Homo sapiens: one gene and its partners. The protein of the gene in region 1 interacts with the protein of each later gene in a pairwise test. Each region holds a gene or a part of one and is shown in the gene's direction. Other genes may lie near its edges. The genes, in order: MAGI2, ACVR2A, MORN4 and DSCAML1.

Region 1 (8,970 bases):
GATTTGGGGAGATTGGAATCATCCAGAACTCCCTGTCTTTGCTCGAAAGAAAATTATGGTGCAGAAGGAGAGAAGAGTGAGATAAAAGTTTGAATAGAGGACAACTTTAAGTAGAATAAAGTAGTAGCTTTTTTCTTTTCTGTTTTCTTTTTTAGCTCACTGCACAATTCGTGTGCGGTATGTATGGATATTTGCGTCACAGGCATATTAGCATAAGGGTTTGTTGTTGTCGTCGATGTACACTGTTTGTCCTGACTCAAAGGTGGAATTGAGCATGTCATTACCTGCATTTTGCCGCTTAATCATGATCAACTACTAAGAAATGCTTTTACGGAGATGTACCGCACTGTTAAATTATTCTCTAAAAAACTTGTTTTAAAATAAACAAGATAAAAAGAAGTACTGGGCAAGGTTTCTTAAATGTAAATTGCCATACAAGAAAATGTTTTCCTTGGGTATTCTTGAGTATTAAGAGGTAATAAATTGAGATAGGTTATTATAAGTCAACATAGCTCCATACTATTTAACACTGAAGGGATATGAGTTTGGTAGGAAGGAAAATAGAGTAACTTGATATTTTTGAAGATAAGATACCTAAGGTTCAAATACAGAGATTCATGTTAACATGTTCGATGTCAAAATACCACCTTATAGGAATAGACATAAATGGAAAGATCTTTGGGTACGAAAAGTCTACTACACAACTAATGACCATGGTTTTGTTGGCCAAATGCTTGATATTTGTCATGGAACGTGGCTGCAAAAGTTAAGCGTTGTTAAATTGGACTTAATAGAGTCCCACAAACGGATGCCCTATTATAGTTTGCAATGATCATCACATCTTAAATGTTGTGTTCAATTCTGAGCACTCCTTGTTGAGGCGGACGTTGGCAAACTGTCACGCTAGCAAAGAGTAAGTTCAAAAGAGAAATAAAGGAAGATTATTGTGTATTATAGATGTATTCTATGAAATGCCGTGGAAAGACTTAACGTGGAGAAGTGAAAGAATGAAAGCTATCATTAAATAGCGAAAAGCTATCAGGTAAGAAAAGGAATTCTGACTATCCTGTGATAGCCCACAGGACAAAATGGTGATAAATCTATGAGAAATTTGAAAGGATGAAGCAGCTTTACTTTCATTAAATCATGAGCTTTCTAACAGAGTTTTCCAAAAATTTGTGAGCACCCTGTTGGCTGAAGTTCCCATCATTGTGGGTATCCATGAAGAGGCTGAAATGACCATATGCCAGGGATTCCTATATAAGATGAGGACCTGGATTAGATATTATTTGAATCTTGCCATAATTTGATCTAATGTGGTTGGAGATCACTCTTGTATTGAATTTTATGTGGAAGATTATTGCTTTTAGAACTCAGAATATATGCTTCTAAAGTGATATATTGAGGGGAAAGTCTCTTTTCATTCTATATTAACCCTCAGTTTCGTGCTTCACTGGTTCATTGATGATAAATTTGTATAATGATAGCCAGAGAGCCCACAGTTGGTTCATCTCCTGAACCACTGCTGACCAAAAACAAAACAAAACAAAATATTTCTTTTACCTTTTGTGGAATAATTAATTCTCTTGTATATTCTTTTAAATATGATTCATGTTGCTATTCTAATAATTCTTTTCCTCGTCAAATCATAGATTAATTTTATTTATGATTATAAAAAATGAAATTTTTCAGAACCTTTACTATAGTGCCTGTGTGTCTTAGGTTTCAATACAGATGTCATTTACTGGAAAATCATTTAGAAACTCTTGGCCCAGTAGTTATGTTTCAAGAGATGCAAAAGCTAGCATAGCTGAAAAACTTAAACATGGTTTGTTTAGCAGTTGCGTTTTTAAAACATTAATGAGACTGATTTTTGAATATTCATTCAGACATTGGGTATTATACAGAAACTACAAGAATTATCATAGTTTAAGGAAGATTTTATAAAGAAAAGGTAAGATTTGAATAATAAGAATATTGTTAATAAGTGCACCAGGTAAAATTGCATTATTTACTTAATTTTATTTACTTGTTTGCCTAATTTTACATTACAGTTATCATAATTTTCATCTGTCATAATTTTAAAAGGAGGTGAGCTCCTTTTAAAATGTTGGGATTTTAAGACATTATATATATATATATATATATGTATATATCTCACAGTGTTTCTACACTGTTTAAATACCTGCAAAACAATTTTTAAAACTGTTTAATGAAATTCAAGGAATTATCTTTTTAATTTAAGCTTTCTGCTTTTAATCCACACAATAATAAACCACATATTAAAATATGGCTTATTGTCACATCCAATTCTTTTTTATAAACTATGGCATTTTATTTGTAATAATAAACTTTCCTCACCAAAGTATGTAATTCTAAATTAGCAGTAATTCTATGATCTCGTTAATGCATCAGACCCAGTTGAAGAAAGTTTTTTGAGTGATGTTGAGATCTATATGGAAGTGCTAAAGGTCTTCTTTCCTTTTTCTTTTCCCTTTTTTAAGGTTTGCCACTAAAGTTCACAGCAGCCAGTTACACAGGCCTTTGTGGCCTACATTCCTTGCACTATGGCTGCTATTGCATCTAATACCACATAGAGACCTACATAACCTGGACTTATTTTCCCATTTAGGGTCTCACAATGGGAAATAAAAGGCAAAAAAAAAAAAAAATTCTAATTCTTCCCATGTGGAAGATGGGCCAAATAAATCCTTTGAAATTCAGTTTTAGAGAAGATCTACATTGCTCTCCCTCCTACTGCTCCTTTCAAAGATACCTTCAAAGGAAAGTAGATCCACATTTATTAAGAGTCATACTTTCTTCTTGACTGACTTCAGGCTTAGAATAATAGAGTCAGATCTCTATACTCCTTTGTATCTGAAAAGGTAAAAACAAATTATGTCAAATTTTCTGAAAATAAAGATTGACTTTTTTTCTGTAGAAATGTGAGGTATATGAATAGTGTTGTTTAATAAACAAAACATTGTTTAAACATTTTGATCAGTTTATTATTTTAGAAATAAAGTACCATTAATGTTTTGAACAAGGTTAATGAGACGGTTCTCTTGGGGCATAATTTATAAGTGATACCACTGTAGTTTTCTGGTACATGTAGATAATTTAAATGGTATGACCTCGAATGTTAAATATGATTATTTGCTTTTTATCTGTACTGTCCCTATTCTTAACATTTACACTGTTTAATCTTTTGGCATGTTTATTATGCTCACTTTCCTTTTCATTGCTTGTAACTCACAAATTCACTTTCATAATGAGAAAAGCATATTCACATTTGACATCTCTGATTGATTATAGTTTAATTAATGACTTTCAAATACATACAGACCCTGGCAGAATCATTTTCCTCAGAAGGTGGGGTAGAGCAATGGTTAAAGGTACAGTCTCCTAAGTAGACCACCTAGTTTTAATTCCTGAGTATGTCAGTTAGTGCTAGCTATATGTACAAGATAACTAACCTGGGGTAGTAATGGCACCTTAAGAATATTAGATAAGTTATGTATTTAAAGTGTGTAGTGTCTGGCAGGTGATAAGCATTATGTAGATTTTAGTAAATGCTATTGCAAACATATTGGTCATTTTGAGCTAGTGACATTATGAGGTGTTTTTAATTTTCAAGATATTTTACTCAATTCAAATTAACTGAAAAATATGAAATGATTGACATTAATATAGAGTATTTTGCAAGTTGTATTTTAAGGTTTTTTTGCAGAATGAAATAAATATTTTATTTGAAAAGAATTTATTTGAAGAATAATATCAATAAATACAATGGAAAATATTTTCACTTTTTAAAAATAACTTCCACTGATCCTCCCTTTATGTGTAAACATCTGCTATTTTATATTTATTTTATACTTTAGACATAGTTTATTTTTACATAGTAATTTGTTTTCTTCATACCGCATATCTTTACTCCCAAAGAATTGCTGAATATATTGAATTATTTACTCTAAACTTGACAACATAGAAATCCTATTAGAATTTATTAAGTTTAGGAGTTTATACTTCTTATATTAATACATCATTGTAGTTAAGAGTAAGTATCATGCTGTTGAACTTTTACTTCTCAGCTAGAAATTAAGCACCTCATAAAGAATAACAATAATAAAAGTTAACTCTTAAGTGTTCACAGTCAACAATGTATAATAAAGAGGAAATGCATCAAATTCAGCAAAAATAATACTTTGCATTTGTGAGTATTGCAATGTAAATAAGTTAAAAGGCTATTTGTATTGCATTTTATAGTATTTTATACTATACTATTTTATAGTATTTTATGGTACTGTTAAAATACCATTAAATTTAAATACTATTTAAATACTATTAACGTACTATAGTACTATTAAAATACTATTTTATAGTATTTTCATACTTTGTATGAAAGAAATGCAATATAAGTAAGTCTGTGTATTAATACTGTTACAAGGTGAAGCAACCAACAATACTTCCACTGCTAGCTTCCCCATAATTTTAGCATTTTCGTTGAATTAATCCTATTTTACAGTTCAATGGAAACATCTACCTTGAAGCTCCAGGGTTCAGTATTAATTTCTAAAAATCTCTCCTAGCTATAATCTGGCTATATATTATGACAACAAACATACAACTGCCTTAGTTTAGTGACTTTATTATTACTTACTCCATTCTATTCTCAGCTCTCTTCTGTCTCTAGTAAGTATTTGTTATATTTCCTTTAATAAAAGTAAATTATCTTATATAGAAAACTTAGTAATATAATAATTGCTGAATTTACATTGTTAAAGACTTGCATAGGGACATACATAGTACAATGTCCATATCATCATAGATAATTAATAAAAATTGCTTTTATTATTACGTCTTACTGACATCTTTGTCAACTCTAAAAGGACTTCATATTGAGATATTTTTAAAAAAGTTAAAATTTGTGTTAAGTTTAATATATATTGTTGACTGTTTTGAGTGGTCTGGAAGAAACAATAAAAGTTTCCTTCTTTGATAAGTTATTGAATATTAACTCAATTGCATCCCATTGATGTACTTTTATTTTTTCACTTATTTATTATTTTTTTTTGAGACGGAGTCTCGCTCTGTCGTCCAGGCTGGAGTGCAGTGGCGTGATCTCAGCTCACTGCAATCTCCGCCTCCCGGGTTCACGCCATTCTCCTGCCTCAGCCTCCTGAGTAGCTGGGACTACAGGTGCCCGCCATCCACGCCCGGTTAATGTTTTTGTATTTTTAGTAGATATGGGGTTTCACCGTGTTAGCCAGGATGGTCTTGATCTCCTGACCTCGTGATCCACCTGCTTCGGTCTCCCAAAGGGCTGGGATTACAGGTGTGAGCCACTGCGCCCAACCCCCATTGATATACTTTCAAAGATCCATTAGGCTAATGAGTGGGTGATTTATATGAATGGCTAGATTTGTTTCAATATTTGAAATAATTAGATGGCTTGCTCTACCTGGGGAAATAATTTCTCCATGTAATCGTTACATGAATCCTTATGAGGTTTTATGCCATTTTTATTTATTTTGGCTTACTTTAAAAAAAAAATCACTGTCAAAACCATGGCAGTTTGAGCCTAAATACTTGCTATACTTTGGATATATCATTGGATATACCCAAACACAGATATGTTACAGAAGAAAAAAATAAACCTTTATAGTGCAAAGAGAGATTTTGTCTATGTTGAATTTTCTTCTTTTTTTAATTGTACTTTAAATTTCGGGGTACACGTGCTCAACGTGCAGGTTAGTTACATATGTATACATGTGCTATGCTGGTGTGCTACACCCATTAACTTGTCATTTAACATTAGGTATATCTGCTAATGCTATCCCTCCCCCCTCCTCCCACTGCACAACAGGCCCAGGTGTGTGATGTTCCCCTTCCTGTGTCCATGTGTTCTCATTGTTCAGGTCCCACCTATGAGTGAGAACATGCGGTGTTTGGTATTTTGTCCTTGTGATAATTTGCTGAGAATGACGGTTTCCAGCTTCACCCATGTCCCTACAAAGGACATGAACTCATCCTTTTTTGTGGCTGCATAGTATTCCATGGTGTATATGTGCCACATTTTCTTAATCCAGTCTATCATTGTTGGACATTTGGCTTGGTTCCAAGTCCTTGCTATTGTGAATAGTGCCACAATAAACATATGTGGGCATGTGTCTTTATAGAAGCATGACTTATAATCCTTTGGGTATATACCCAGTAATTGGATGGCTGGGCCAAATGGTATTTCTAGTTCTAGATCCCTGAGGAATTGCCACACTGACTTCCACAATGGTTGAACTAGTTTACAGTCCCACCAACAGTGTAAAAGTGTTCCTGTTTCTCCACATCCTCTCCAGCGCCTGTTGTTTCCTGACTTTTTAATGGTTGCCATTCTAACTGGTGTGAGATGGTATCTCATTGTGGTTTTGATTTGCACTTCTCTGATGGCCAGTGATGATGAGCATTTTTTCATGTGTCTTTTGGTTTCATAAATGTCATCTTTTGAGAAGTGTCTGTTCATATCCTTTGCCCACTTTTTAATGGGGTTGTTTGTTTTTTTCTTGTAAATTTGTTTGAGTTCACTGTAGATTCTGGATATTAGCCCTTTGTCAGATGGATAGACTGCAAAAATTTTCTCCCATTCTGTAGGTTGCCTATTCACTCTGATGGTAGTTTCTTTTGCTGTGCAGAAGCTCTTTAGTTTAATTAGATCCCATTTGTCAATTTTGGATTTTGTTGCCATTGCTTTTGGTGTTTTAGACATGAAGTCCTTGCCCCTGCCTATGTCCTGAATGGTATTGCCTAGGTTTTCTTCTAGGGTTTTTATGGTTTTAGGTCTAACATTTAAGTCTTTAATCCATCTTGAATTAATTTTTATATAAGGTATAAGGAAGAGATCCAGTTTCAGCTTTCTACATATGGCTAGCCAGTTTTCCCAGCACCATTTATTAAATAGGGAATCCTTTCCCCATTGCTTGTTTTTCTCAGGTTTGTCAAAGATCAGAGAGTTGTAGATATGCGGCATTATTTCTGAGGGCTCTGTTCTGTTCCATTGGTCTATATCTCTGTTTTGGTACCAGTACCATGCTGTTTTGGTTACTGTAGCCTTGTAATATAGTTTGAAGTCAGATAGCGTGATGCCTCCAGCTTTGTTCTTTTGGCTTAGGATTGACTTGGCAATGCAGGCTCTTTTTTGGTTCCATATGAACTTTAAAGTAGTTTTTTTCCAATTCTGTGAAGAAAGTCATTGGTAGCTTGGTGGGGATAGCATTGAATCTATAAATTACCTTGGGCAGTATGGCCATTTTCACAATATTGATTCTTCCTACCCATGAGCATGGAATGTTCTTCCATTTGTTTGTATCCTCTTTAATTTCATTGAGCAGTGGTTTGTAGTTCTCCTTAAAGAGGTCCTTCACGTCCCTTGTAAGGTGGATTCCTAGGTATTTTATTCTCTTTGAAGCAATTGTGAATGGGAGTTCACTCATGATTTGACTCTGTGTTTGTCTGTTATTGGTGTATAAGAATGCTTGTGATTTTTGCACATTGATTTTGTATGCTGAGACTTTGCTGAAGTTGCTTATCAGCTTAAGGAGATTTTGGGCTGAGATGATGGGGTTTTCTGATATACAATCATGTCATCTGCAAACAGGGACAATTTGACTTCCTCTTTTCCTAATTGAATACTCTTTATTTCCTTCTCCTGCCTGATTGCCCTGGCCAGAACTTCCAACACTATGTTGAATAGGAGTGGTGAGAGAGGGCATCCCTGTCTTGAGCCAGTTTTCAAAGGGAATGCTTCCAGTTTTTGCCCATTCAGTATGATATTGACTGTGGGTTTGTCATAGATAGCTCTTATTATTTTGAGATACGTCCCATCAATACCTAATTTATTGAGAGTTTTTAGCATGAAGCGTTGTTGAATTTTGTCAAAGGCCTTTTCTGCATCTATTGAGAAAATCATATGGTTTTTATTGTTGGTTCTGTTTATATGCTGGATTACGTTTATTGATTTGCGTATGTCTAATGAAAAAATTTGTAGAAGAAATTTTATCAACCTCATAACTGCCTTATAGTGAAACACATGCATATGACATCAGGAATTTTTCTGTAAGTACCATGGATTTTATTAAGTGACTCTGTGAAATGAAGCAGAAAGAAACAAAACTATTTAATTAAAAATCAAAATGTATATTTAAAAATCTATTTTTATATTACATTGTGTTTGAAGATGTTTGTTAAAAAGTAAATTTCCCAATTCCAGCATAAATTGAATTATTTATATTGCCATGGATCAAGTGTAGCACAAAAACTGTTTATACTTTACATTGTCACTTAATAGATCACAGGGAATGTCTGAGTAAAAATAATACAAAAACAATTGCATACATTTTTAACATTTTGCATTTTACAAGTGAGTATTTTTGCTTATATGAGTATTTTGTGTTGCTATGTGGAGGATAATAAGTGCTATAGAAACCCACAGATTAATCTAGTGACATACCCTAAACTTGTCAAATCTGATTAGCTGGATTTTGTAAACACCAATAAGTTTCAGAGATATGAATTGTCCAATGTTGCTTTTTGTGAAGTTTTTCTTTTGTTTTGTTTTGTTTTTTTAAGAAGGAGTCTCGCTTTGCTTTTCTTCAGTCTAGTGTGGGAGTCACCCCAGTGAACAACAAATTTGTTCTGCATCTTTAGGTACATGGAATACACACACACACACACACACACACACACACACGCACACACACACACACACACACTTCAAACACTAAGGTTCAGGCTGGAGTATAGTGGCATCATCTCTGCTCACAGAGACCTCCGACTCCTGGGTTCAAGTGATTCTTCTGCCTCAGCATCCCAAGTAGCTGGGTCTACAGGCACCCACCATCACACCCGGCTAATTTTTGTATTTTTACTAGAGATGGGGTTTTACCATGTTGGCCAGGCTGGTCTTGAACTCCTGACCTC
Region 2 (8,264 bases), on another chromosome or scaffold:
GATGGCAGATGTTATAGGAAAATATATTTTATAAGAACTTTATTAATATGAACTCTCCATAACAAATCATTGGATTAAGTAATTTAGGAGACACAAGACCTTATTCTCAAGTAATATACAGTTTAGTTAGGGCAATAAAATATATCCTGGACAATTAACTCTAGAGTAAGTTAAGTGTGAGTTGTCTGGCCCATTCCCCAGTACATAGGTATTCAATAAATGTTTCTGGGTTAGTGCAATACTTAAGAAATACAAGCATGTGTTTTAGGAGTTTAGGGGAGAAATTGCTTTGTTTATGGGGAAGAGAGGTTTCAGAGAAGTTCTTTTGGAAAAAGAAAAGGCTAGATACTGACTTTTCTTAAATGCCATGAAATAATTTCAGAGTCAGGCATTTCTGACTCTTAAGTCAGAACCCAATTGTTAAGTCAGAAATTGGGGTAGAGAGGATAGTGTGAGCATTGATTGCTAAAGTAGGTGCTTTCACGTGTGTTGATGGTTACTTGTTTGTTAAATGAAGTAATTCTCAAACTTTAATGTGTCATACCAGATTCTTAGGAATCTTGTTAAAATTTAGATTCTGACTCAGTAGGTCTGGGTTGAAGCCTGAGAGTCTACATTTCTTAAAAGCTAAGCTACCAGTTGACGGCAGTGTTGCTGGCCTGTACACCACATAAGTGTTGAATAGACACCTTAGAATGTCGGTACTTTGTCACTGGAAGTACTCAAGCAGAGACCAACTGTCCAGCCATAGATAATTCTTATATTTGAAGAGGGTTAAGTTAGATGACCCCTTTATGATTCATTGTATTCTACCCAGGAGTATTTAGTGCATTTCAAGAGCTTCACAAAATTTGTGTTTATGCACACATACATCTATCTGGTCACTGATACTGCTCAGTGGTGACCTGTGTCTGTCAAAGGAAGGCAATCCAGTGATTAAAACCAGACTTCAGAGTTATTTAGAGAGTTGGGTTCAATTCCAGCTCTACCGTTTAACAGCTGTATGTCTTTGTGCAAATTATGTAACTTTTCTGAGCTTCTTATCAGTAAATAGAGGTACTGCCATCTTAACCCTGTGAAGTAAGTAATATATGTAAAGTTTCTGATCAGGATAGGTGCTTACTGGATGTTAGTTATTATTAACTCCTAAATACAATTTTCTATTTATCTGAGTAGGCCTAAGAAAAAAGGAATTATTTATGTTGTTTAATGTTGTCTATGAAGGCACATCCTGACTTGTTGGGACCCCTAGTTGGAGAGCCTGTTTGTGATTTTCTAAAAAATAAACATGTACTTTTTGGCAGCTGTTGTGAGGGAGTGTAGAGAAGAGGTATGACTCTGAGGTGCATAATTCCTCATGTGGGGCATGCAGGGGGTTTGGATATGCCATAGAATAAACATGGTTATAATAGATTGAACCTAGAGCCTCCAGAGCTGGAAGCACCACTGTTAACATTCTGATCTGAATTGTAAGGAATGGGTACCTTAAAGGGATATTATATAACGTTAATTTACAAATACTGATTGTTCCTTATGTCCTCTGTGCAGATGGAAATAGGCATCCTTTATACCTAGATAAGAAAGCCCCTTATGCAATCTTTAAGGGAATTACATGCCAAATTATAGGCCTTTTCATTTCCCATACATTAGTTTGGTCACACTGTGGTATAAGTACAGTTGAGAGTCTGTTTCTCTTCTGTCCTCATAGCATGTAAACAGTTGGGAATAGGTGACAGAGTATATTTTAGAAAGTTTGTACCAGTTTGAAAGTCAGGAGGATTTTAATGAAAATGATTTATTTTACTTTTCTTACTTTTCAGGACCTGTAGATGAATACATGTTGCCATTTGAGGAGGAAATTGGCCAGCATCCATCTCTTGAAGACATGCAGGAAGTTGTTGTGCATAAAAAAAAGAGGCCTGTTTTAAGAGATTATTGGCAGAAACATGCTGTAAGTTATCCAGTTAGCTTTTCATTTGAAATTCCAATAAAACACTTTTCAGAGGAATTATTTATCTCTGCACATTTCTCTTTCTTCTGCAAGTATTTTCTGGAAGGTGATCTTCACACAGGATATTCTAGAGTTCTAGAGGCAGAATTAGGGCTATGTCTGTATACCCCTGAAGGTGATTGTAAAGTAATAGAGCTTTAGAGGGCTTTTGTCTCAATGGTCCTGTGCAGAAGATTGTGTCATCTATTTAGAAAGTTTCCCAGGGAAAAGGCATGCCAGACTCGGAAACTGTGGATAGTTGGGTAACTTTGCTGATGACCACTTCCAATATGACAACATTTTAAAAAGTTTATGAAGCACCATGTTTTCTCCTCTCCATGGGAGTTTGTTGTAGCCTTTTAATTTCGGCTTAGACTTTCAAGTCTTAATAGTGCTTTAAAACTATAGAGACCAGGCACATAACAGTATTGCCCTGGTTATTTCAGTCTAAATATAACTAGAAACCTGGCTAAAACCAGGTAGAGAAATCCCAAGGGTGGCTTTCTGATCTTCTGTTTAATTGTAAGATAGAAATGCTGATATTAACTAAGAAAACAATAAAAATTGGTAGGTCCCCTTTATCCTTGATTTTTGAGTCCATTTGAAGGGTTAGCATTGAAATGACCTGGGTTATGAACAAGGGATAGAGATTTTTTTTTTGGAGTTAAAAAAATTCCTCTTGTGATAGTCTCATGCTTAAAAAAAAAGTTCTGTTTGTGCTTTTCTTTATGATTCTGCACATGGTAGTCAATAAAAGTGAATGTTGACAGAAACTTCTTTGACCCAGAAAAATAGCCATTTCTTCATGAAAATTTTATTGTTTCCTAATAGAAAACAAAAACTGCTGTGGCGTTTGAGTATATGTTTTTCTCCTTTTAGGGAATGGCAATGCTCTGTGAAACCATTGAAGAATGTTGGGATCACGACGCAGAAGCCAGGTTATCAGCTGGATGTGTAGGTGAAAGAATTACCCAGATGCAGAGACTAACAAATATTATTACCACAGAGGACATTGTAACAGTGGTCACAATGGTGACAAATGTTGACTTTCCTCCCAAAGAATCTAGTCTATGATGGTTGCGCCATCTGTGCACACTAAGAAATGGGACTCTGAACTGGAGCTGCTAAGCTAAAGAAACTGCTTACAGTTTATTTTCTGTGTAAAATGAGTAGGATGTCTCTTGGAAATGTTAAGAAAGAAGACCCTTTGTTGAAAAATGTTGCTCTGGGAGACTTACTGCATTGCCGACAGCACAGATGTGAAGGACATGAGACTAAGAGAAACCTTGCAAACTCTATAAAGAAACTTTTGAAAAAGTGTACATGAAGAATGTAGCCCTCTCCAAATCAAGGATCTTTTGGACCTGGCTAATGGAGTGTTTGAAAACTGACATCAGATTTCTTAATGTCTGTCAGAAGACACTAATTCCTTAAATGAACTACTGCTATTTTTTTTAAATCAAAAACTTTTCATTTCAGATTTTAAAAAGGGTAACTTGTTTTTATTGCATTTGCTGTTGTTTCTATAAATGACTATTGTAATGCCAATATGACACAGCTTGTGAATGTTTAGTGTGCTGCTGTTCTGTGTACATAAAGTCATCAAAGTGGGGTACAGTAAAGAGGCTTCCAAGCATTACTTTAACCTCCCTCAACAAGGTATACCTCAGTTCCACGGTTGCTAAATTATAAAATTGAAAACACTAACAAAATTTGAATAATAAATCGATCCATGTTTTGTAACAAATTCACTGTGTTATTTAAGGAAAAAAAGGTAAGCTATGCTTAGTGCCAACAATAAGTGGCCATTCGTAAAGCAGTGTTTTAGCATTTCTTGTGCTGGCTTGTAATGTAGGGAAAAAAAGTGCTGTTTTTTGAAAAGATGGTGTCATTTCCCCCTTCTTCCCATGTTTTAAAGCCCCATCTTATATCCAGTTCCCAAAATTTGCATACTTACCTAAGTATTTTTTTTAGGTGTGCTGTGTTTGGGGAATATTTGAAAATTTAAAGCATGATTTAAAATTTTTTAAAGTGAGCTGTGACACTGGAAAGCTCTTCATTTTATCTTTTAAAATAGAGTTTTTTCTATTTATATATGTAAAATTGTAGTGTATTTCTTTTCACCAAACAGTGTGTGGGACATTCTTTATCACTGTTTTAGGATCACCTCAGGAAGTGTCGTTACCCAGAATTCCCCACTGTCTGCTATGAGACTTGTAACTTTATCACTATACTTCTGCTTGGTGCCATCTTGTCAGAGTAATATTTGATGTCTGTGATATGTAAAGAATTATCCTAGGATAAAGATATTAAACTTTAAGCAGATTTCAGATGTTACTGCTTTAAAACAAATCAGGGATAACAAATTAAACGTATAACTTAAAATATGCAATGACATTTAGAGGTAACCAATGTTGATATAGGTAGCATAGCCTAGCCTCCTCCCCAAAATTGCTTTTACAACTAACACTGATACTAATTTAGGATAGTTCATGCCTTATCCTTGCTAAGAAAATGGAATTGATGGTAGGCAGGTGCTAAAGTGCTTTTCAAAACAATATTACGTTAGAATACAATTGGATTCTTCCTCAAATTTATACAGGCCAAAAAGTAAAACATTAATTTTCTGAATTTCCAGATTACCAATCAATTAATCAACAAATAGCCAGTATTATGCTGTGTATTTCTGTCAGGTCATTTTAAAATCCATGTTAATTTTATAAAAGAATTTTTTACATGTCACTGTCAGGAGCTCACTGTGAATGTGTTGTCTTCAAATGGTTATTTAACCACACAGTACACTACATTTTACATATATGTACGTAATCTCTGGGAATAGTAAATTAATTATGTTATTTATAAACAATACATAGGTCAACAGACTTTAAGCAGGGAGGAAAAGAAGAGTAATAGCGTCTGTGTGCTGCAGACCATTCAGAACTGTCACGTGTGTCCCCATGGTCTCATTCATTGTATTCCTAGCAATTCCCTTTTCAATGTTGAGTTCACCTCTTTATTTCACAAAGTACTTGGTCTCTCAATTTCTTGATCTGGTTTTGCTTCCATTTAAAAACTAATCAAGAAGGGAAAATATTGAGAATGTGCATACAAGAAAATCATTAATTTCCTGAAGATGAATTTCTACCTGTTGTGAACATTTAACTTTCTTTTTAAAAGTTAAACAAAAATAAACAAGGGATATTATGATGAATGTTTGGCTTATGTGAGTACTAGAGATAAAATTTTTAAACCCAGTTATTCACAATATAAAATGTTTTCAAGTTAGAAAAAATTTTTAGAAATCCTGGGTATTGTATTTAACTGTAGCTAACCAATTTTAAAACTTGTATTCTTTTGAGAACTATTATTAATAGAAAAACTTTTTATAAGCAGTAAAATAAGAATGTTCCAGTGACTACCTGTCCTTATACCTAGTCTTGTTAAAACTTTCTTTTGCAGGGTATTTAGTGTTTGGTTTACAGTCAGTGCAGAGTGGGCAAGTTAACAGAAAGTTTGAGCTAGAGATACTGGAAAAAAAAAAGATCAAAGAATGAGAAAAATGGTGATCCATTTTGGGGCAAACTGAGACCCCCCAAATAACTCTTTCCTCATGTGTATGGTGCTCCTCATGACTCGTCTTGTATTTTGCCTTTCTGATACCCATCAGAACTGCTGCTGCTCTAACTTATACTCTTTACCTTGCCCAGATCTCCGCGTAAGGAATGCTTTATGATCAACTTGCCATAGGACTGATGGATTAACCAGTGTTCGGCTTTATTTGAAGTCTATGCCCTGCACAGCTCTTGTATGTATTTTAGATGCTAGAAGTTTTTTTAGCATGTGATGTGTGATTCTTGTTTGAATTCTAGGTACCTTGTGAATTCCAGAAAAAGAGACTGTGCTTCACGATTGTTAGTCCCATGAACTTGCACTATCTATCTTTCATGGTGATGTTTTGAAAATACAATCAGGAAAAAACCCAACACCTTTGGAATTTAAAATAGAATCATATCATGAAATTTAAAAAGAATCTCTTCTGTTGCATTTCCTCACCCCTAAGTAACAGCTACATTTAAGTAAAATGCAGGTGGTAGGGGAAAAAAAACCATGGCGAGATGGTGGTTTAGTGGAATAAACTGATTACTGGTTTTTTTGTTTTTTTTTTTTTTTTTAAAGAAAGAAGCTTCATCACAGATACTTTCCAGTTTCTCTTTTATACTTTTTTGAAAGATTACTTTTTAGGAACATTTGGTATGATATGCATAAAATTATTTATCCATTTATGGGCAAAATGATACAAGTAGCATCTTGATTGAACATCATTTACCTCAGATATTCAACCAGCAGTACGTTTTTTATGCAGTCTCAACCCATATCCCATTTGTTACCTCTCAGAATATTGGTAAGCAGTTATTTTCGCTTTACTCTGTATTTCTTGTGTTTTGGGCACAGGTTATTGTACTACTGTCAAATCGTACTTGCTATTTTTTCTGCAAGTATTTAACAGAAAGCTTAAAATCCCCATAAAACCCCACCTTGGATAAGTGATTGTTAAATATTGTACAAATAAAATGTATGCTATCCCCATTCCATCCCCAAGTTAAATAAAAAAATGAATACGGTATGATTTGCATATGCAGTTTTTCTTTAGCTATGTTTTTTTTTTTTTTTATACTTTAAGTTTTAGGGTACATGTGCACATTGTGCAGGTTAGTTACATAGGTATACATGTGCCATGCTGGTGCGCTGCACCCACTAACTCGTCATCTAGCATTAGGTATATCTCCTAATGCTATCCCTCCCCCATCCCCCCACCCCACAACAGTCCCCAGAGTGTGATATTCCCCTTCCTGTGTCCATGTGATCTCATTGTTCAATTCCCACCTATGAGTGAGAATATGCGGTGTTTGGTTTTTTGTTCTTGTGATAGTTTACTGAGAATGATGATTTCCAATTTCATCCATGTCCCTACAAAGGACATGAACTCATCATTTTTTATGGCTGCATAGTATTCCATGGTGTATATGTGCCACGTTTTCTTAATCCAGTCTATCATTGTTGGACATTTGGGTTGGTTCCAAGTCTTTGCTATTGTGAATAATGCCACAATAAACATACGTGTGCATGTGTCTTTATAGCAGCATGATTTATAGTCCTTTGGGTATATACCCAGTAATGGGATGGCTGGGTCAAATGGTGTTTCCAGTTCTAGATCCCTGAGGAATCGCCACACTGACTTCCACAATGGTTGAACTAGTTTACAGTCCCACCAACAGTGTGAAAGTGTTCCTATTTCTCCACATCCTCTCCAGCACCTGTTGTTTCCTGACTTTTTAATGATTGCCATTCTAACTGGATAAAATACTGGCAAAACGAATCCAGCAGCACATCAAAAAGCTTATCCACCATGATCAAGTGGGCTTCATCCCTGGGATGCAAGGCTGGTTCAATATACGCAAATCAATGAATGTAATCCAGCATATAAACAGAGCCAAAGACAAAAAACACATGATTATCTCAATAGATGCAGAAAAAGCCTTTGACAAAATTCAACAACCCTTCATGCTAAAAACTCTCAATAAATTAGGGATTGATGGGGTGTATTTCAAAATAATAAGAGCTATCTATGACAAACCCACAGCCAATATCATACTGAATGGGCAAAAACTGGAAGCATTCCCTTTGAAAACTGGCACAAGACAGGGATGCCCTCTCTCACCACTCGTATTCAACATAGTGTTGGAAGTTCTGGCCAGGGCAATTAGGCAGGAGAAGGAAATAAAGGGTATTCAATTAGGAAAAGAGGAAGTCAAATTGTCCGTTTGCAGACGACATGATTGTATATCTAGAAAACCCCATCGTCTCAGCCCAAAATCTCCTTAAGCTGATAAGCAACTTCAGCAAAGTCTCAGGATACAAAATCAATGTACAAAAATCACAAGCATTCTTATACACCAACAACAGACAAACAGAGAGCCAAATCATGAGTGAACTCCCATTCACAATTGCTTCAAAGAGAATAAAATACCTAGGAATCCAACTTACAAGGGATGTGAAGGACCTCTTCAAGGAGAACTACAAGCTACTGCTCAAGGAAATAAAAGAGGATACAAACAAATGGAAGAACATTCCATGCTCTTGGGTAGGAAGAATCAATATTGTGAAAATGGCCATACTGCCCAAGGTAATTTACAGATTCAATGCCATCCCCATCAAGCTACCAATGACTTTCTTCACAGAATTGGAAAAAACTACTTAAGTTCATATGGAACCA
Region 3 (8,970 bases), on another chromosome or scaffold:
GTGTCATTTTCTTTCTTTTATTTTTCTTTTCTGTCACCCACTGACTCTCAGATATTTAATTTAATCCACCTGCCAACTATGTGAAATACATATCTTATCTCCACTTTACAGATGAGGAGACTGAGATTTAGAGATACTTAAATACCTTGCCCATAATTATACAGTGAACTCATATTTGAACTCAAGTCCTCCTGTGCTCAGAGTCTACAACACCACCATATTATCCTGGGAGGCCAGATAGGATAGTATGGTATAAGTTAGCAAGTTACTGTAAGAACTTGTGCCAGCAAGGCCAGCTGTCAGAGCTCTGATTCTAACTTTCACGTGTTAGTTTCCACATGTATGACCTTAGTTAATTTACTTATCCTCTCTGCACCTTAGTTTCCTCATCCCTAAAGTGGAAATAATAATAATACCCACCCCAAAAAGTTGTTGTGAGATGAAATTAGATAATATATTTTAAAAACACTGATGCTCATGCCGTGTGCGGTGACTCACGCCTGTATTCTTAGCACTTTGGGAGGCCGCGGCAGGTGGATCACCTGAGGTCAGGATCACCTGAGGTCACCTGACCAACATGGTGAAACCCCATCTCTACTGAAAATACAAAATTAGCCAGGCGTGGTGGCGCATGCCTGTAATCCCAGCTACTTGGGAGGCTGAGGCGGAGGTTGGAGTGAGCAAAGATCGCGCCATTGCACTCCAGCCTGGGGAAGAATAACAGTGAAACTCCGTCTCAAAAACAAAACAAAACAAAAAACACTGATGCTCACACCAGTAATCCCAGCTACTTGGGAAGCTGATGAGGAAGAATCACTTGAGGCCAGGAGTTCGGGACCAGTCTAGGCACCATAGCGATACCCATCTCAACAAAAAATTTGAAAAGTAGCTGGGTGTGTTGGCACACACCTCTAGTCCCAGCTACTGGAGAGGATGAAGCGGGAGGATCACTTTAGCCCAGAAGTTTGAGACTGCAGTGAGCTCTAATCACAATCACACTACTGCATTCCAGGCTGGGTAACTGAGTGAGACCCCATCTCTTAAAACAAAACAAATAAACAACACTGATGGAACACAGTAAGAGGTCAGTAAATGTTAGCTTCTGTTATAAAGGTATTTCAGACAGCTTCTCTGGGGTTAGTGCAATTGATTATTAGAGAGGGTTGTGCCACCTGAATTGAAATATAAATAATCTAGCACTGTCCACCATGACAATGTGGAGAAAGCAAATTTAACATATGGGTTGTTTTAGTTGAACATTTAAAGCATCACTTTTGCATAAAATATACCAGACCCCTTTTGTGCTATGAAACTATGGAACCCACTCTTTGGAACTCCATCTTGACTGGATGAGGTTTTGGCTTCCCTGGGACTTGAAGGAAAAGGAAGCTAGCTGTTGGCGCCAGGCCCCCGAGATTTAAGAATCCCATCTTGCGGCCAGGCACGGTGGCTCATGCCTGTAATCCCAGCACTTTGGGAGGCCAAGGCGGGCGGATCACGAGGTCAGGAGATTGAGACCATCCTGGCTAACACGGTGAAACTCCATCTCTACTAAAAAATACAAAAAGTTAGTGGGGCGTCGTGGTGGGCACCTGTAGTCCCAGCTACTCGGGAGGCTGAGGCAGGAGAATGGCATGAACCCGGGAGGCAGAGCTTGCAGTCAGCCGAGATCATGCCACTGCACTCCAGCCTGGGCAACAGAGTGAGACTCTGTCTCAAAAAAAGAAAAAAAAAAAAAAAGAATCCCGTCTTGTTTTGAGCTGGGAGCAGTGGCATGCACCTGTAGTTCCAGCTACTCAGAAGTCTAAGAGGGGATTGGAGGATCTCTTGAACCTAGGAGTTCAAGTCCAGCCTGGGTAACATAATGAGACCCTGTCTCTAAAAGAAAAAAGAATTCTTTCCTGTTTCTCCACCAGGTCTGGCCCCAGTACTCTGAGGAGAATGTGTCCTTGTCCTGTTGGAACTCAGTCAGATGCCTGAGGGTCAGACTCTAGGTTACTTATTAATCAGAGGGGACTTTTTTTTTGGAGGGGGACAGGGTCTCGCTCTGTCACCCAGGCTGTAGTGGCACTGTCATGACTTACTGCAGCCTCAGACTCCTGGGCTCAAGCAATTGTCCCTGCTCAGCCTCCCAAAGTGCTGGAATTACAGGCATGAGCCACCATGCTTGGTTGATAGAGGACTTTTCAATAGTGATTTATAGTTCAGAGAACTTTTCACACACAGTATTTCCATTTATTGTAGCAGTAGGCCACAAGCTTTGAAGTAAGGATCTAATGATGTGCTTATTAAAACTGCAGGTTCCCAGGCTCTGACTACAGAATCTGATTCAGTAAGTCTGAGTTTGGGCCTAGGAATCTGCATTGTCAAAATTACTGGAGAAAACATTGTATTGCTTAGATCTGGAAAAGATGAGGAGGTAGCTAGATGTGGTAGTGTGCGCCTGTAGTCCCAGCTACTCAGGAGACTGAGGTGACGGGATGCCTTGAATCCAGGAGTTTGAGGTTACAGTGAGCTATGATCGTGCCACCGTGCTCTAGCCTGGGTGACAGAGCAAGACCCTGTCTCTAAAAAATAAATAAATAAATAAATAAATAAATAAATAAATAAATGAAAGATGAAGGGATGAATGAAGAGACCTAGGGAATTAAAAAAGAAATAGGGCTTGTATTTTTTAGTCTATCAAATGACGTACTATTTGCCTCTGTTTATATTTAATGATTTTGGGGGGTATCTTAATTCCCTCTTCTTCTTCTTCCGTTTTTTTTTTTTTTTTTGAGACAGGGTCTCCCTCTGTCGCCCAGGCTGGAGTGTCGTGGCGTGATCTTGGCTCACTGCACTTCTGCCTCCTGGGTTCAAGCGATCCTTCCACCTCAGCCTCCCAAGTAGCTGGGACTACAGGAACGCACCACCACACCCGGCTAATTTTTGGATTTTTTGTAATTTTGGTACAGATGGGGTTTCACCATATTGCCCAGGCTGGTCTCAAACTCCTGAGCTCAAGTGGTCCGCAAGCCTCAGCCTCCCAAAGTGCTGGGATTGTAGGTTTGAGCCACCGTGCAGTTCCCTTCTTATAGAATATCCTTCAATACATCCTTTCACCACTAATGTGAAGCCATATCTAGCCAGTCCCCAAATGTTACTGATTGTTTTCCTATGATGTATCCCCCCAGTTGTTCCTTCTGCTCCCATTATACTGTGATCTCCCAGACTCATGCCTGAACGTATCAGTTAGCTTTTTCTGGGTAATAACACACCACCAGAAAACACAGTGGCTTGAAACAATAACCATTTATTTATCCTGTGAGTCTGTGGTCGCTAGTTTGGGGCCGGGCTCAGAAGGGCAGTTCTTCTAGTCTTGCCTGAGCAATTTGTTCATCTGTGGCCAGCTGGGACAGGGTCTCACCATCCAGTAGACTAGATTGGACTCATTTACATGGGGGCAGAACAGGTCCAAGTGTAGCAAGAGGGCAAGCCCAGTGCACAGGTGCTTTGCAGACCTCTGCTAGATCACCTTTGCGAACATTCCATTATCTAGAACAAGTCACACAGCCAACCCAGGTCCAGCAGGTGGAGGAATAAATAAACTCTGCCTCTTTTTTTTTTTAGACAGAGCCTCACTCTGTCGCCCAGGCTGGAATGCAGTGGTGCGATCTTGGCTTACTGCAACCTCTGCCTCCCGAGTTCAAGCAGTTCTTCTGCATCAGTCTCCCGAGTAGCTGGGATTACAGGCACCCGCCACCACGCCCTGCTAATGTTTTGTATCTTTAGTAGAGACAGGATTTCTCCATGCTGGCCATTCTGGTTCAGGTGATCCACCCACTCCGCCTCCCAGAGTGCTGGGATTACAGGCGTGAGCCACCGCACCCGGCCAACTCTGCCTCTTAATGGGAGGATCTGCCTTGTCACATTGTAGGGTCATGAACGGAGGGAGAATAACTCTGCCCATTTTTACAATTTGCTTCATTATCATATTTCCCTTCCTTGCAAGCTTTTCTGACTATGGACTTGCTGCTCCAATTCATCCCACTTCGTGCTACCACATTCATTTTCCTTACACACTGCCTTCATATTACATCCTGGTTCACAAACCCGCAGAGGTCGCCTCTTTTCCTCCCTCATATGCTGTAAACTCTTATGCCCAGCTTTCAAAGGTCTCTTTAAGTTAGCCTGAGCTAAAAGCAGAGGCTGTGCTGTACAGGAAAAAAGGACTAGCATAGTCAGGGGAGGCTGTCAACAAACTTTATTACCTCTCTGGGCTTCTATTTCTCCTATAAAATGAGAGGTTGGGCTAAATCCATGAGATTCTTTTCAGATTTATTTATTTATTTATTTATTTATTTATTTCTCGAGACAGAGTCTTGCTCTGTCACCCAGGCTGGAGTGCAGTGGTGTGATCTCAGCTCACTGCAACCTCTGCCTCCTGGGTTCAAGCAATTCTCCTGCCTCAGCCTCCTGAGTAGCTGGGATTACAGGTGCCCGCCACCACACCCGGCTAATTTTTGTATTTTTAGTAGAGATGGGGTTTTACCATGTTGGCCAAGCTGGTCTCGAACTCCTGACCTCGTGATCCGCCCACCTCGGCCTCACAAAGTTCTGGGATTACAGGCATGAGCTACCACGCCCGGCCTATTTTTTGTTTTTTAATTTTACATTTTTGACATGAGGTCTTGCTATGTTGCCCAGGCTGGTCTTGAACTCCTGGGCTCAAGTGATCCTCCCACCTCGGCCTCCCAAAGTGCTGGGATTACAGGTGTGAGTCACTGCACCAGGCCTCTCTTCAAATTTAAGATTGTGGCTACATGTACCTACACAGGCTTATTTCCTAATACTCCCCAAATAAACCCTCAACTGTAATGAGACCAGGCTTCTTATTTTGCCATGGAACATCTCGTGTTCACATTGCCCTTAGAGTGTTCCTTGCCCTTTGAGTGTTGGTTCCCCATATTTTCTTTTTTTTTTCTTTTTTTTTTTTTTTTTTTGAGACAGAGTCTTGCTCCGTCACCCAGGCTGGAGTAACAGTGGTGTGATCTCAGCTCACTACAACCTCCGCCTCCCGGGTTTAAGTGATTCTCCCGCCTCAGCCTCCCAAGTAGCTAGGATTACAGGCTCCTGCCACCACGCCCAGCTAATTTTTGTATTTTTAGTAGAGACGGGGTCTCACCATGTTGGCCAGGCTGGTCTCAAACAACTGACCTCAGGTCATCCCACCCACCTCGGCCTCCCAAAGTGTTGGGATTACAGGCGTGAGCCACTGCCCCTGGCCTGTTCCCTATGTTTTCTGATTCTGGAATTGCTCTTTGCCTTCTCCACTGCTTGTCTGCTTGTTTTAAATTCTGGCCATCTCATGTCTTTGTTAATCTCTGCCATCCAAGTTGGCACTTAATCACATTATCTCTGGCATAATTCAGTGTTTAAATTGTTAGTCTTATTAACTAGATTATAAACTCGTCAAGGGAAGATACTGTATTTTATACATCGACTGAGCACATAGTAGGTATCAAATAAATATTTGTAGATTAATATTTGTAGATTTCCATCCCAGGTCATAGAAAATAGGAACTGGCTGAAAACTTTTAAGATAAGCAGGAGGATAAGAGCACTTGGGCAGAGGTGGAGATGATGGTGCTGGTGGTGGTTGGAGATAGGGGTATTTTGGTTAAATGCACCTAAGGCAGTGTACACTTACCAGGCTGGTGGCCTTTAGAATGTATCTATAAAATTGCCTTGCAGTCCTTTCCTCCCGCCATTCCATGACACTGGTTCTCCTTTGCTTATTTCCTACAGTTTCATCCTTTTATCCTGTAATCTGTCACCATGACCCTGACAAAAGGTTCCTTCACCTACTCCAGTGGGGAGGAATATCGTGGCGAGTGGAAGGAGGGTGAGAAGGACCCCTGGGGAGTATCCATGATGAACACTTCATTTGCTGGAGGACAAATACATCAGGATATATAGCCAACTTTATGGATCTTCATTTTCAACTCCAGGATTTAATTCCATATAGTGCCTGCCATTCCTTTATTCCATTTTAGGATTAAATAAAGGAATTTGAAAATGCTATTGTTAATTCAACCTCCAGGAATGAGTTATATCTTTCTTTTTTTTGCTTCTGTTTTTGTTTTGTTTTGTTTTGTTTTTTGAGATGAGGTCTCGCTCACTATGTTGCCTAGGCTGGAGTGCAGTGGTGCAATCTCAGCTCACTGCAACCTCTGCCCCCTGGGTTCAAGCGATTCTCGTGCCTCAGCCTCCCAAGTAGCTGGGATTACAGGCGCCTGCCACCACATCTGGCTAATTTTTGTATTTTTAGTAGAGACGGGGTTTCACCATGTTGGCCAGGCTGGTCTCGAACTCCTGACCTCAGGTGATCTGCCCACCTCGGCCTCCCCAAGTGCTGGGATTACAGGCATCAGCCACCATGCCCGGCCCATGCCAGCCTCTCTTCTAAGCATTTTGTATTTATCATCTTATTTAATCCTCATGACAACCTTATGAGGTAGGCACATACTATTATTATTCCCATTTAACAGATGGGGAAATTGAGGCAAGGAGAAGCTAAGTAACTTACTCAAGATCACAGAACTCTAAGTGGTAGAACAAGAAGGCAAACACAGCAGGCAGCCTGACTCGGTGTCCTCAAAATCTAACTACATTGCCTCTCTGAGGAAAAAAAAAAAAAAAAACAACCAGTATCCATTTAGCACCTTAAAGCTACTGGGCAAATCTAACAGCCTGATTAGCAGCACTGGTTTCAGCTTCATTATAACAACAGGGCTGTGCTTACTCTCTGAACTGACCAGAAAACAGAGCAAGATGTTGCAGGAGTAATCATGCCTTTCAAACAGAATTCAAGGGAGTTCTTGTGGTGGATACAGCCCACCCAGCAGAGCCTCAGGAAGTCTCTCCTCTAACAGTCCGCATTAAAGGGGACACCAGGTATTTGAAAGCCAGGAAGAAATGCCTGGGATTGGAGGAGCCAAGGTCACATCACACCTGTACAATTTCTCTCAAGGCTCAAGAATTTAGGGCAGGCACAGTGGCTCATGCCTGTAATCCCAACACTTTGTAATCCCAGCTACTGGGGAGGCTGAGGGAGGAGAATCATTTAAAACCAGGAGGCGGAGGTTACAGTGAGCCAAGATCGCACCACTGTGCTCCAGCCTGGGCGACAGAGTGAGACTCTGTCTCAAAAAAAAAAAAAAAAAAAAAAAAGAAGAGAGGCTGGCACATAGTAAAGGCACTATAAATACACATGTTAGCAATTGTTATTTATTTATTTATTTATTTATTTTGAGATGGAGTTTTGCTCTTGTTGCCCGAGCTGGAGTGCAATGGCATGATCTCGGCCCACTGCAACCTCCACCTCCCAGGTTCAAGCGATTCTCCTGCCTCAGCCTCCTGAGTAGCTGGGTTACAGGAGCGCGCCACCACCATGCCCGGCTAATTTTTTGTAGTTTTAGTAGAAACGGGGTTTCACCATGTTAGCCAGGCTGATCTTGAACTCTTGACCTCAGGTGATCTGCCCGCCTCCTCGGCCTCCCAAAGTGCTGGGATTACAGGCGTGAGTCACTGCGCCCAGCCAGTTGTTTTTTTGTTTGTTTGTTTGTTTTTTGAGACGGAGTCTCACTCTGTCGACAGGCTGGAGTGCAGTGGCGCGATCTCAGCTCACTGAAACCTCTGCCTCCCGGGTTCAAGTGATTCTCCTGCCTCAGCCTCCCGAGTAGCTGGGACCACAGGCAGGCGCCACTACACCCAGCTAATTTTTGTATTTTTAGTAGAGATGGGGTTTCACCATGTTGGCCAGGCTGGTCTCGATCTCTTGACCTCGTGATCCACCCTCAGCCTCCCAAAATGCTGGGATTACAGGTGTAAGCTACCGCGCCTGGTCAGCTGTTGTTATTTTTAAGTGCTCTCTTATTCATACTTGGGTAGACCTGCTTTAATCTGTAGTGATAAGATGGGAAGGCCCCAGGAGCCAGGTTTTCCCAGTGCCTGACTCTGGCTAATAATCCTCTGCCCTGCTAATGTCACTGCTTCTCTTGTTTTCTTTGTGGGTAGGGTGATGGCAGGTAAGGGATGCTACAAGAGTAAGAAGGGACCCTGAAGCTGCCTCCTTCCAACCTGACACCTATCCTTCTCTTTGTTCAGGCCGCAGGCATGGTTTTGGTCAACTGATGTTTGCAGATGGTGGCACCTACCTGGGTCATTTTGAGAATGGGCTCTTTAATGGCTTTGGGGTATTGACCTTCTCAGATGGTTCAAGGTGGGTATGAGGTCATTCCTTTCTTAGCCTTAAATAAGGGAGGGTCTGACAGAAAAATGGGACTCTGGTAAATATCTGGTCAATCCTGACCTTGTCTCACTCCCTGCAGAACACAGATGAGTAATAAGTAGTTCTTTTATTAGCTATTTTTTAAGTGGACCTAAAATTTGAAATGTCAACCAAGTGAGTGACTTTCCACCCCACTCCCATTCACATCCTATCTTCTTTCCTTGAGATCAGGGCTTCATGTCATATATACTCTCTGCTCCTTGGGAATAGGTGGGGTAGGTGGAGCTATGTGACTGGTAGAATCGGCTTGCTCCTTAGCATCATTAAATAACAGAGATCAGCAGCTGCTCGACTCCGTTCATCTGGACAGCTAACTTTCCACTGAAGGCTAACTTCTTGGTGTTTCTGCAGGTATGAGGGGGAGTTTGCCCAGGGCAAGTTTAATGGCGTCGGAGTCTTCATTCGATATGACAACATGACCTTTGAGGGGGAATTTAAAAATGGCAGAGTAGATGGTTTTGGTAAGTTGCAGCCCAGCAGGATGGCTGACTTAGGTGGGCATAATATGGGTGGAAATATACCTGTTTAGTTTTAATCCTGCGGGTGTCCAGCAATCCATAGTGGCCGTCCCTGACACCTATCCATTGAACTCATCAATAGAGTACTCCTGAGTAGAGCTGGGAGTTTTTCTCTTCTTT
Region 4 (4,915 bases), on another chromosome or scaffold:
CCCCCCAGTTCCCCATCATTCACCTTCACCTTCTATTCTTCCCAGCTTCTACCCACCAGCTCATGGGGCCCAAGGCACAAGTCAGTTTCATGTCTAGCTGGTCACTGACCCACTGTGCAGCTGGGACAAAAACACTTGACCTCACTGAGCTCTACTTAGTCAGGGAGTTAATTTTGCTTTCCCAAAAACTGTCAGAGAAAATGGTACACATGATGTTCATTGGAGAAAGGGCTGAATGTTCCAGGGGATGGTTGCTTATTTTCAAGAATGAAAGGTGTTCTGCCCTTCATGAGCCAAAGATCCTACTTCTGCCACCACTGCCACCTTCACGGGATCTTCTCAGCCTGGTGCCCTCCATGGCCAGACTTACAGATGGCTGCTGGGGTTACGGGCAGGGGAAGTGCTCAGTCAGTCTCACTTATACCCTCCTCCCCGTAACCCACCCCTTTCCTCTTAACTCCCCAGACAAAGGAAGGAACAGCATGGTGTCCACTGAGAGTGCCTCTTCCACCTACGAGGAGCTGGCCCGGGCCTATGAGCATGCCAAGCTGGAGGAGCAGCTGCAGCACGCCAAGTTTGAGATCACCGAGTGCTTCATCTCTGACAGTTCCTCTGACCAGATGACCACAGGCACCAACGAGAACGCCGACAGCATGACATCCATGAGCACACCCTCAGAGCCTGGCATCTGCCGCTTTACCGCCTCACCACCCAAGCCCCAGGATGCGGACCGGGGCAAAAACGTGGCTGTGCCCATCCCTCACCGGGCCAACAAGAGTGAGTGCTCAGACCACCTCCCAGGCAGTGCCCCCCCGCCCCCTGGCCCCAGCCCCATGAGCCCTGGCTAGATCTAGTTCTGCCAGCACCAGGATCATGCCAGCCCAGCTTGGCTCCTTGGCAGTGCAGGGTGGTACCAACAGCAAGGACTTAGGAGCAGGCAGATCAGGGCCCACATCCTGGCTTAACCTCTTCCTATGTCTGTGGCCTTGGGCAAGTCATTTAACCTCTGTGGCCTTAAGTTTCTCATTTGTAAAATGCCAACGATAGTATCTACTTTGCATTGTCATAATGGGCATTAGAAATGATATACATCCCCAGCGTGTTGTAAGGCCTCATTCATTCGGTAGTGAGCATCCCCTTAATCTGAAGCTGTGCCAGGATGGAAACAGATCCCTTCAGGGTCAGCTGCCCAAGGGCCTCTGGTCTCAATGCTGTTTGAATTTAATCCAGACCCAAACAAACAATCCTGGCAGCTCCACCCACCATGGTCATACCTCTCAGTAGGCAGTGACCTGGCCTGGCTGGGAACCATCTGACCCCACGGGCCTGGCCGGAGCATATGCCCTTAGAGGCTGGCAGGGCAGGGCTAGGATCAGCAGGGGGAGTCTATCAGCAGATGCTGGGGTCACAGCGTGCAAAGCCCAGACTATCAAACAATGCAGTCTGGTCTGCTTAGCACTGGCCATGCTAATTGAGGCAGGGGGCGGGGCTTTCTGGGTCATGGAAAGAAGAGCCTGGAACAATGGAAAGACTGTGGAGACTGTGACCCTGAATGACACCCCCACCCCTTTTAGCTGTGCAAATTTAGGCAAATGATTTAATCTCTCTGAACCTCAGTTTCCTCACTTGTAAAGTGCAGACAGGTATTAACCAATCCTAGGGGCTGTCGTGAGGATTCAATAAGAAAATCTAAGGAAAATGCCTGGCCCAGCTCCCCGGGGGAAGAGGCCCATTTGCAGGCAGGGTGCCCATGGAGCACGGGGGGTCAGGCGGTGGAGGTCTTAGAAGCAAGTCACATGGAGGCAGTTTAAGAAATAAGGAACTAGGTTGGGTGCGGCGGCTCATGCCTGTAATCCCAGCACTTTGGGAGGCCAAGGCAGGCGGATCACCTGAGATCAGGAGTTCCAGAGCAGCCTGGCCAACATGGCAAAACCCCATCTCTACTAAAAAAATACAGAAATTAGCTGGGCATGGTGGCACGTGCCTGTAATCCCAGCTACTCGGGAAGCGGAGGTTGCAGTGAGCCGAGATCATGCCACTGCACTCCAGCCTGGATGACAGAGCGAGACTCCGTCTCAAAAAAAAAGAAATTAGGAACTTTCCACCTGGAGAAGAGGGGACCGAGGGGGAGGAGAGGGGACATGTAGCTGACTTCAAACATCTGGAAGGCTGCCATGGGAAAGAGGGGAACGCCTTACTCTGTGAGACCTCAGAGAACAGAACCAGGCTCCATGGTGGGGAGGCGACAGGGAATGATATTCCTTTCCTCCTCAGGGTAAAGAAAAGCTTTCCACCAGCCAGAGCCATTAGGACATCCTCGTCCTTAGCAGTAGTGAGCTCTCCACTACCGGAAGCTGACCAGCCTCTAGTGACCATTGAACAACAAGCATCCATGTACTGGGCAGCTGTTATCTGCACCAGCCACTGTAGCAAAGCACTTTACCTCCCTCACCTCATTCGCTCCTCACAATAATCCTGTGGGGAAGTAAGATCATCCCCACTTCACAGATAAGGAAACGAAGGCTCAGAAGGGCCAAGTACCCGACCTTTCCGCTACTCTTTATTGCCCCCCAGTGGAGGGGCCCCTATGCCAAATCAGAGAGAAGACTGGGGGCAGGGGATGGGGTGGGGGCTGAACGAGCTGCTTCCAGAGGGCTATGACTCTCTGTAACATCCTCTGCCTCTGTGATTCCAGGTGACTACTGCAACCTGCCCCTGTATGCCAAGTCAGAGGCCTTCTTTCGAAAGGCAGATGGACGTGAGCCCTGCCCCGTGGTCCCACCCCGTGAGGCCTCCATCCGGAACCTGGCTCGAACCTACCACACCCAGGCTCGCCACCTGACCCTGGACCCTGCCAGCAAGTCCTTGGGCCTTCCCCACCCAGGGGCCCCCGCTGCCGCCTCCACAGCCACCTTACCTCAGAGGACTCTGGCCATGCCAGCCCCCCCAGCCGGCACAGCCCCCCCAGCCCCCGGCCCCACCCCTGCTGAGCCACCCACCGCCCCCAGCGCTGCCCCTCCGGCCCCCAGCACCGAGCCTCCACGAGCCGGGGGCCCACACACCAAAATGGGGGGCTCCAGGGACTCGCTTCTCGAGATGAGCACATCGGGGGTAGGGAGGTCTCAGAAGCAGGGGGCCGGGGCCTACTCCAAATCCTACACCCTGGTGTAGGGCCCGCAGGAAGAGCAGCCACGCCTGGACCGCGCCGCGCCGCAGCCCCACACGCCAGCTCGGCTGTTTTTCTGCATTATTTATATTCAACTGACAGACAAAAACCAACCAACGACAAAACAAAAACCCCCAATCATGAACGCCTGTACATAGAACTCTTTTGTACAAATGAAACTATTTTCTTCTTCTCCATGAAGCCAGGGCACAAAGAATTTGACAGTACAAGTCAAATCCCCCACCCCACAAAATATGTGTGGAGATATATATACATATATAGACAGACAGGAACGCGTCCACGAGCTATATATCTATATATTTCTCTCACCCTATTTTGAGACAGAGGCACAAAGACTCAGCAATTTTTTTCCCTCCTCCTCACCTTCCCCCCAGTCTAGGTGGTTTTGACAAAGACCAAAATCCCAACTCAGAGACACTGCATGCGATTTTACTGTTCCAAGAAAACCAGGAGTTGCTTCAATTTGCAGATGCTTATGTGTTAATACCTTTTTCTATGAAAAAAGACCCAGCGCCGTGTGCAATAAAGGTTATGTTTCTATGTGGTGGCTTTTTTCCCATCTGGCGAAGGCCAGCGGGGAGGGAGGAGAGAGCCCGACCCCAGGCCGTCTGTCTCTCATAAAGAGACTTTGTGAGAAGCCTGGGCTTTGGCTCAGTGCTCTAAGACTTTTAAAGGCTTGCAATTAGCCAAGGTGCCTCCTCTTCTGTTCTCAGAGCTGTGCTGGGCCCGCAAGGGGAACTAGGTCGGTGGCTTCGTGCAAACTCCTAAACCCCTCTGACCCACAGTGTCCTTACCTGTAAACGGAGGGAAGCTTGTAGCAGATGGAATGAGGCAACCTTGGCTCACCAAGCGCTGGGGAGCCTGGGATAGGGGAGGGGTTGCCTACTGGCTTCTTTCCTCCAAGAGAGTGCAGGGTAGCCAGGGGGCCAGGACTATACAAGACCAATAGCCCACAGTTGTGAAAGAGGTGCCTATCGGGAGCGGGGAAGAAGAGATTATCTATAGCTGGGGCACCAGGCCAAGGCCTAAAGTTCTGGGCTGACTCTTAGGACCAGATGAGGCCAGAGGGAGAAGAAGAGAAGTCGTCGGAGGTGAGAGGAGTGAGAGAAGCTCATGAAGGAGAGGGAATGGAGCTCAGCCAAAGAGAACCAGGTCAGCACATCAGGTACCTCACCTGGCTTCCAAGGAGTCAGCCAAGTGGAAGAAAAGGCGTCCACACGGAGGAGCAGGCAAGGTGCCGTGGGTGTCCAGAGGCCTGGTTTCTGATGAGAGGGTCCAGAGGGCATCACAGGAGGTGACAGGTGAGATGGACCTCCAGGGACTTGAAGGTTTGGAGAGGCAGAAGCAGGTGACTGGCCCCTGGGTGAAAAGGAAGTGCACCTAAGAAGTGCACAGGGGGCTCTTGAGCACTGCAATTGAGGCTGAGCTGTGGATCAGGAACCTGGAAGGAAGGTGAGTCTGGGACCCACCGCTCCCTAGGAGCTGAGAGGAGGAACTGGGAAGGGCTGGAGAAGGAGGGAGGAGTTTGTGCATGCAGGCAGCTGATACCTATCAGCCTGGGCCCCGGTGAGGCCGCACCTGGGATGCATGACCTTTCATAGAAGCATCTTCCGAATAGCAACTCATCCCACAAATTCTCTCTGAGCACCTAGAGTGTGTGGGATGCAGAGGAGTCCCTCGCATGAATAACTAGATTCCCGGGTCGGCACGGTGAGAGGGGAGGGGCAG

The links.
Region 2: the proteins of MAGI2 (region 1) and ACVR2A interact in a two-hybrid assay, tested with the Homo sapiens proteins (one study listed by BioGRID).
Region 3: the proteins of MAGI2 (region 1) and MORN4 interact in binary tests that used the Homo sapiens proteins (3 or more experiments, as listed by UniProt).
Region 4: the proteins of MAGI2 (region 1) and DSCAML1 interact in a two-hybrid assay, tested with the Homo sapiens proteins (one study listed by BioGRID and IntAct).

What each region holds. Positions count from the first base shown.
Region 1 is NC_000007.14:79,443,056-79,452,025, reverse strand, and holds part of MAGI2 (membrane-associated guanylate kinase, WW and PDZ domain-containing protein 2), read left to right. Parts: intron 1-8,970. UniProt on the Homo sapiens protein: Seems to act as a scaffold molecule at synaptic junctions by assembling neurotransmitter receptors and cell adhesion proteins. Plays a role in nerve growth factor (NGF)-induced recruitment of RAPGEF2 to late endosomes and neurite outgrowth.
Region 2 is NC_000002.12:147,924,211-147,932,474, forward strand, and holds the end of ACVR2A (activin receptor type-2A isoform 1 precursor), read left to right. Parts: intron 1-1,820; coding exon 1,821-1,951; intron 1,952-2,869; coding exon 2,870-3,064; 3' UTR 3,065-6,612; downstream 6,613-8,264. UniProt on the Homo sapiens protein: On ligand binding, forms a receptor complex consisting of two type II and two type I transmembrane serine/threonine kinases.
Region 3 is NC_000010.11:97,616,501-97,625,470, reverse strand, and holds part of MORN4 (MORN repeat-containing protein 4), read left to right. Parts: intron 1-5,787; 5' UTR 5,788-5,817; coding exon 5,818-5,884; intron 5,885-8,148; coding exon 8,149-8,263; intron 8,264-8,683; coding exon 8,684-8,793; intron 8,794-8,970. UniProt on the Homo sapiens protein: Plays a role in promoting axonal degeneration following neuronal injury by toxic insult or trauma.
Region 4 is NC_000011.10:117,426,584-117,431,498, reverse strand, and holds the end of DSCAML1 (cell adhesion molecule DSCAML1 isoform 1 precursor), read left to right. Parts: intron 1-465; coding exon 466-777; intron 778-2,695; coding exon 2,696-3,171; 3' UTR 3,172-3,727; downstream 3,728-4,915. UniProt on the Homo sapiens protein: Cell adhesion molecule that plays a role in neuronal self-avoidance. Promotes repulsion between specific neuronal processes of either the same cell or the same subtype of cells.